Homo sapiens: one gene and its partner. The protein of the gene in region 1 purifies or fractionates together with the protein of each later gene. This does not show direct contact. Each region holds a gene or a part of one and is shown in the gene's direction. Other genes may lie near its edges.

What was found.
Region 2: the proteins of ARMCX2 (region 1) and MRAP2 purify together in Homo sapiens (co-immunoprecipitation; one large-scale study listed by IntAct). This does not show direct contact.

The regions. Positions count from the first base shown.
Region 1 is NC_000023.11:101,657,751-101,661,663, reverse strand, and holds the start of ARMCX2 (armadillo repeat-containing X-linked protein 2), read left to right. Parts: upstream 1-1,813; 5' UTR 1,814-1,906; intron 1,907-2,129; exon of another isoform or gene 2,130-2,162; 5' UTR 2,163-2,245; exon of another isoform or gene 2,246-2,256; intron 2,257-2,515; 5' UTR 2,516-2,588; intron 2,589-3,050; exon of another isoform or gene 3,051-3,138; 5' UTR 3,139-3,203; intron 3,204-3,521; 5' UTR 3,522-3,591; intron 3,592-3,913. UniProt on the Homo sapiens protein: May regulate the dynamics and distribution of mitochondria in neural cells.
Region 2 is NC_000006.12:84,061,135-84,064,947, forward strand, and holds part of MRAP2 (melanocortin-2 receptor accessory protein 2), read left to right. Parts: intron 1-1,758; coding exon 1,759-1,858; intron 1,859-3,813. UniProt on the Homo sapiens protein: Modulator of melanocortin receptor 4 (MC4R), a receptor involved in energy homeostasis. Plays a central role in the control of energy homeostasis and body weight regulation by increasing ligand-sensitivity of MC4R and MC4R-mediated generation of cAMP.

The DNA.
Region 1 (3,913 bases):
GTTACAGACCCCTTGAGAAACTGATGAGGTCAGTGATCTCTGTTCCTGAAAAAAATGCATTTAACCACACATATAATCCCAAACAAAGCTTTGCAGGTGAATGCAATTTCAGGTGGTCTACAGAGTTGACCGGGTGAGAACACCTACTCTGGGTTCATCAGTGGGGATTGTTCCCTGGGCATACATTTGGTTGAGAGGGCACCAAGGTGGATGTGTACTGGCAGGCAGTAACCTTGCAGGAAGGCTAGACTCTTCCTAGGTCCCCTGGAGCTAAGGAGGCAGAAGTGAGAGGCCCAGGAGGATGCATCTCTTAGGCCAAGTGGTAGTAGCAGACAGTGTTTGGAGCAAGGTTCACTGGTAACCACGAATAAGGACAGACAGCAGTCAGGCCTGGGAACTTCCCCCAACAATCACTTTTTGTGTGATCACAAAAACCTTTTTGTGAAATCACAGGTTTCACAAATCGTCAGCTGCAGGGTCAGGTAAGAACAGCAATCCTTTCTATGCATCAATGGGTTTCCTCTGGGAACTTGGGGGAGGGACGGAAAGAGCCAAAGACATTTAACCAGGTCTGCATCTTGGTCACTTGTCTGGATATATTTTGGGTGTGAGCAACTGAGCCAGGTACCTGAATGCAGGAGATGAGCGGCTCTGGCATATGGGAGGGAGTAGAGAGACAGCATCTCCCTCCTCCTCCTGACAGGGCAGGGAGGATTTGACCACTCTGCACCCACCACACTCAGTTTCCTTGGCCTCACAGCTCTTCCTTTTGCCCAGAGTTGAATCATTAACTGGAACCTAATCCGAAGACAGGTGTTTAAAACTGTCATGGTTACAGCCATCAAATTACAGGAGGTTCACACACAGCAGTCAGCAATGGTTTGGGAATATTAAATAAATGTGTTTCTCTAACAGGACAAGACAGGATCATTTATTTATGCAACTTAAAAGCTGTCCCAGAAGGAGAAAAAAGTAGCGTATTATTTGTCCAAAATAAACAAGATTGAAGAACTGAACATCTCTCTGTGGATCAATTTACAGATCACATGGAAATATGCTTATCTTATTGAGAAATATTCCATTTTAGATGTTCAAATACCTTAGCATATTTTAAAAACTATTTCCTATGTGACCAAAAGAATTCATGTTCTATTCGGTAAAAATTAACCAAAATTAATGGTGCTTTCCAATGGACGCAGGAAACCTTTTTTCTTTACAAAACATGCCCACCCTTTTTTTGTTGCTACTTCCCACATTGAATTCTTGTTTTACTGAATTTTCTTACTATAAAAATAAAGCATGATGATAGTTTTGAAAACAAAACAGAAGTATTTGAGAAGTACAGACCCCACTCCCACTCCTTGTCTCCTTTCTGACACTCTGCCCCTTAACTATACTGGAACAGGGAGTCAACTGCAAGGAAAATCCTGGGGACTAGGGGCTGAGGAACTAGAGGTGGAGAGATGGAAGAGTGTCCAGTAGCCCAGGAAAGGATGAAACAATTCCCCAACAAAAAAGTAAAAATTTTCAGTAGCCCTCCGAGAAGATGCAGCCCCTCCCAGGTAACCAGAGAAAGGCAAATTGTGAAAGCAGGGAGAAGGGGCTACTTTAGGCCTCCAGGACTACAAAGACAAAAAAATGAGTGACAGGACCTGATGTGGTGGGGTGAGATGGGAATGGAAGTAAAGGAGGGGGCTCGTACTCTTGGTGGGAGTGGAAATTGGGGACCCAAGCTTACTGGCGATGCAGCCCTCACGTGACCAGGAGCTGACGTGGGCAAAGGTACTTAAAGCCCTGACCGTCGTTCTCCGTCCTCCTCTGGGTACCAACTCTATTGCGCAGCTCGCTGCCGTGCGTTTAACCCAGGCGAGGAGGAGGAGGAGAAAATTCCCCCAGATTCGGGCAGGTGGGTGTGAGGGTGGGCACAGTCTGGGACCCCTGAATAGGGGTAATCTAGGGATGCGGGAGTCGGAGGCCGCGGGTGCCTCGGTCTCCCCCACTCCTGGCCGGCTTTCCAGACCTGAGGTGCTCAAACGCGGCTCATTTTGGTGGGCGGTGGGGAAAGGGGGAGGGGGAAACGAAAAGACTTTTGATAGACTTTACGAAGAATCCGCTTACTTCCTTTCCAGCCAGTGTTTTTTGGTTTTGTTTATAATATTCAGGCCCGCACCCCACATTCCGTCCTGTTTTGAGAGGAGGAGGGAAGAGAAATAAACGTGGCAGCGCATAGAAGGCCAGCAGGGAGGTTGGGAAAGGGTAACCAGGAGGCGGGGGTGGGGCATGCAATTTGGTAACAATCTGGGCGGCACACTCCCACCCTGACTTTCCCCACCACCGCCCCGGCACCCTCCCATCCCCCAGCCGACCCTCTGTGATTTGGGAGTGCTGGGAAATGGGTGTACCAGCTGCTGTTGGAGAGGTGGCGGGTTTGGCGCTGTCTGGGCTTCACGGGAGGTGGGGGGGAGGGGGCGGACCCTGAGAGAATCTGGTATTAAACCGCCTTGTTAACTCGCAGACTGCTTTCCAGACACCTCCGGCCCACACAGCCGTTCACCCCCCGTCTTTTCAGTCCTGGAAAAGGAATTCGGGTATGCAGGCGGGAGAAATGGCGGTTGTTGGGGGGATTTGTGGGAAGTGGGAGGTAGAGCCCATAGCAGAGAAATCGTGGAAAATCTCGACCCTGAACCCGAAAAGGCAGACGTTGAGGCCCCTCTTCTGCAGGCTAACGCTAGGCCTAGGGGCTGGGGAGCGAAAGATGGGTGATCCTGGGAGGGGAACACTGAATTGTTTGGCAGGAGTCCCCCATACCGCGTCCCATCCAGCTTTTGCTGCACCCTCGCCCCGCTCCCCTCCCGCTTCGTTGCAGGAGAAGGGGTGTGGCGGTGTGTCCTGGAGAAATGGCGGACGGGGGCGGGGCAAAGCGGAAGGAGGGATTGAGTGCCTGGGGAGCCTGCGCAGGAGGAGGATTGAGGTGGGAGGGGTGGGGTGAGAAGAGTTGAAGGAATTGAGAGGTAGAATCATTTGACATTCTGATGTGCAAACACGAAAAGGCAGTTACTGAGACCCTTGTCCTGGATGCTGATCCATCCACCAGGCTTTCATTGTCTAACGTCGACAGTCTATATTTCTGCTCTTCAGTCTGTCCTTAGGATGAAGCTCTAACTGAACTGAAGTAAGGAGAAACAGCCTTGAATCTTTGGAGGGTCAGTGCTGGGGTTGGAATTGTCTGGGGCCCCCTGGTGTGGGTGTGGCAGAGACAAGAGTAGAGTATGGGACCAGAGGCTCCTCCTGCATCTTCTCTCTTTTAATTTCAAAGACACCCTTGCCCCAGGCCCTTTCTTTTTGGTGCAGAGAAAGGGGCGTGGCATCTGCCTTAGTTAATATTTGGGGGAGGAGAGGCTGAAGAGGAAAAGAGGATCCCTGAGGGGGGAAAACCTTTGACCCACAGGGGCCCAAATCAGGAAAAGAACCAGAATTCGTCCACCAATGGCTCAAAAACGCCCTTTCTGATCTGTCCTCAGGTCTGTCTTCCTTTTGGGCTCTGTGCAACTGCAGCTACAGTGGAAAAAAGCAAACTGCTCTTGATCCCAGGTTGGTATGTGCATGAGCACCATGTAGGGGCCTTGGGGGTAGGGGGTGGGGCATCATAGCAGAATCTGAGATCTCTACTGTTTTTCCAGCTCTCTACCAGCTTTACCCATGTCTGTACTGCCTCTCGTCCTTCCATTTAGATGCTGGAAGTTGTAGGCATTGGCAGAGCAGGCTAAGGTTGAAGATGTAGAAAACGTTAAACTAGGTCTGTGAATCAGCAAACACAGGCCTTGACACCTGTGTCTGGGTGCTAGCCCGCCAACGAAGCATTGTGTCCCTAAACTCTTCTCTAAGTAGAACTGGTTAGACACGAAGTGAGCCA
Region 2 (3,813 bases), on another chromosome or scaffold:
ATATGTAGGATGAAAGTATGAATTATGCAGAGTAAATTGTTAATCTGATTTCTTCACTTTGGAAAAAGTGCTACATATACATAATTTAATTAGAATAAAGCTTTGCATTTAAACACATTTAATATTTAAGCTCTAATCACTTATTTTTAGAAAATTGCTAAGCATCCTCATTGTATTTCCACATAGACAAGCTTCTTAGTGTAGGCCAAAAAATGTAGAATGATTCAACTCTGTTGTGTCCTAGATTTGAGGCCTTATTGTGCAAGTACCAAGTTCTGTAGACAATCCAATCTAACCCTGGTCCTAGAGATAAAGAATTGTGATTGTTATCCAAGATAGGACCAAGGAGAGCCCTGTTTAGGGAATTACAGACAAAAATGTTATTGGGTTCAAAGGAGGGAGACAACACATCAATTATGGAAATTAGTTGAGGCTTAGTAGATAGTGTAGCGGATGGACTTGGAAGGATGGATACACTTTCATTAGCTCCACGTTGGGAAAAGTTGTTCCAGCCAGGTAGTGGTAAGAGCCCTGGTAAGGTGTGGCTGTGAGGAAGCTGTGGCTAAGGTAAATACAGGGACACAGTGTCCCCTAGTTTGATTGGAAACACATGGCTTTTAAAGTGGTAAATTGGGAGAAAATGACAATTCTAATGACAGTAGCCAGCACCTGTGGTGTACTGTTTTCTCAGATGTCAGACATTGTATAAAGTGCTTTATGTGTGGAATCTCTTTTACTCTGGAAAAGTGGGTCAGTTCTGTTTTTGTTGGAGAGCTTTTCATGAAAGAGCAATATCATCAGGGCTGTGATTAAAGCAGGTTTGTACAGAAATAAAGCACAGGGAAAGGCAGAAGGCAGAGAGAGCACTCAAGAGGCCATCTGTATGTTCTCTGCAAGAAGTAATGAGAGCCTGAATTATCCATGGTGAACGTAAGTGAGAATGCAAAGTTGCTACCTAATTGAGATGCTAACCAATTGAGTTGTTAAACTAAAATTTGGCCCAAGAAGGCCTCCATTATTTGCATACTTGCATTCTTAGGTATGAGCTGTGACCTAGCTTACTAGGTAAGCAAACTGAAAACCTAGCCAATGCTTCTGTAACAATAGCTCAGTCTCAGCTAATCACAGCAGCTACACTTCAGGCACTCCCAGGCAGACAGCTGTTCAAATGGTGTTCAAATCCAGCTGTTTCCGTACCTTGCTTCTTTTTTCTGTACATCATTTTCCTTTTTCTGTCCCTAAATCTTAACCAACCATGAGGCAGCCCAGAGTCTCTCTGAATCTATTCTGATTCTGGGAGCTTCCCGGTTCAAGAATTTTGTTTTCCTTGCACAGTTAATATCTGTTAAATTTAATTTGTCTAAAGTTTTTCTTTTAACAGTAGGAATCCAAATGCACTTAAAACTTGAGTTGATAGTCTGCTAAAAATTTTATTTTCTAACTCAAAACACATTAGTGGAATCTTGAGGTCCTAGATAACCTATGCTCTGGTCTAGGTTCCTTCCTTGAGATATGGAAAGCATGAGTCAATGAGGCCTAAATCCCTTCATGCTATCTGAGACAGAAACCTGGAGGCGGAGCAGACTCTTCCCTCCTCCTCATCCTTTACATCTTATCAGTCTCCAGCCAACTGCGGATCAGACTGTTGACTTCCTTTCATGTTTCATGTACCAAAGCCTCTCCAAAAAGCTCTGATTCTTGAATGTTCAAGTTTTAAACTACTGTGAAATACTAATCCCAGAATTAACTGTCTTTCAGATTCCATTGTGATTGGATTTTGGGTTGGTCTTGCAGTCTTCGTGATTTTTATGTTTTTTGTGCTGACCTTGCTGACCAAGACAGGAGCCCCACACCAAGAGTAAGTTTGGGCTGTTCCTAAATGTCTCTTAAGCCTCACAGGAGACTGAGGAAATAGAAACTACTACCCAGGGCCGGAGGTGCTTCCCGTGGATGAAGAGAAGGGGGTGGTTATAGATTTGCTGTCTGGACCCAGATGCCCGTGGATGGGATCCAGCTATTCTCCTGGCTTTTTGTTTCTTGCGTCTTGGGCTTATTTTCAAGTGGACTTTTATGAAATTGGGTTTCTTGGTCCTTTCCTACAGTCTTAATGATGATGTGGGCCTGATTTTTACATTGAAATGTTTATTAATTACAATGTATTTTATTCATATTCCCAAAAGGATTTAGATGATTCACCATATTAAAAACAGTGGAAAAGACAATGGCAAAATAGGATGAAAACCAGTTTTAAAAATTATTTCAAGAAGCAGAGTAATAGTTGTTCCTGGATACTCAACTCAATTTAACTATTGACAATGATTAATAAATTTAACAGAGTTTTCTTAAAACTAGGATACAAAGGCAAACACTGTGGTTTACATAATTCTCATAACATGGTAGGACTTGTGATGATGCTGGACTTTGGATTGATGGAGGAAAGTATTACATGAGTGCTTAAAGAACATTGAGAAACATCAAAAAGTATTTGTTCAGTAATGGCTTGTAAAAAATTCAGAAATATATTAAAGGATTTATATATTTTATACCAAATTTTTAATAAAAGGGAAAATAGAGAATATTGAATACCTCATTAGTCAGCACCAGCAGGCAACAGTAATTAAAAGAGTTTTTGGCCGGTATGGTGGCTCACGCCTGTAATCCCAGCACTTTGGGAGGCCAAGGCAGGCAGATCACTTGAGTCCAGGAGTTCAAGACCTGCCTCGCTATGGTGAAACCCCGTCTCTATTAAAAATACAAAAAATTAGCCTGTTGTGGTGGAGGGCACCTATAGTCCTAGCTACCTGGGATGCTGAAGCACAAGAATCACTTGAACCTGGGAGGTGGAGGTTGCAGTGAGCCAAGGTCACACCACCGCACTCCAGCCTGGGCAACAGAGCCAGACTCTGTCTAAAAAAAAGAAAAAGAAAAAAAGTTTTTGATAAAGGGGCTGTGCGGAAGTTATGGACAGGGAAGAGGGCAACTACGCAGGCTCATGCAGGACAGCAGGGCTGGCAACACTGAGGAGCAGCCATCCTAGATCCCAGGAAGCAAGGGGTGGGGCCACAGCTGGAACCCTGGAGTCTGCTGAGAGGAGTTGTGACTTTGGGCTGAGGGACACAGCTAATCCAGTGTGACCTCTCAGGGAAGGAGCCTCAAAGTTAAGACCAAGACCTCAGTCTTCTCCCTCCTTCCCATTTCTCACCATTGCTCCCCACTGGCTGAACACAACCAGCAGCCAGAGGCTGCATCAAAGGCTAGTTTCCCAAGCACAGAGCAGGACAGGGGAGGGTGGGAGAGACCTGGGAGAGTGAATATAAGTTTCACAGGAATCCTGGCATTTTGGTTTTGTTTTGTTTTTTTGTTTGTTTTTTGAGACGGAGTCTTGCTCTGTCACCCAGGCTGGAGTGCAGTGGCGCCATCTTGGCTCACTGCAAGCTCCGCCTCCCGGGTTCACGCCATTCTCCTGCCTCAGCCTCCCCAGTAGCTGGGACTACAGGCACCCACCACCACGCCCAGCTACTTTTTTGTATTTTTAGTAGAGACAGGGTTTCACCATGTTAGCCAGGATGGTCTCGATCTGCTGACTTCGTGATCCGCCCGCCTTGGCCTCCCAAAGTGCTGGGATTACAGGCGTGAGCCACCGCGCCGGGCCGAATCCTGGCATTTTTATATTCAGTATCTCATTTTTGCCTCACAGCCTGGCAGCAGCTCTCTTTCATGGTTGTGTCTCGTCACAGCCTCCGGCATCTGTTGTTCACTCTTCAGCCTGCACTTGAACTATAACAAATGCCTGTGCAAAGGGAACAGTTCTTG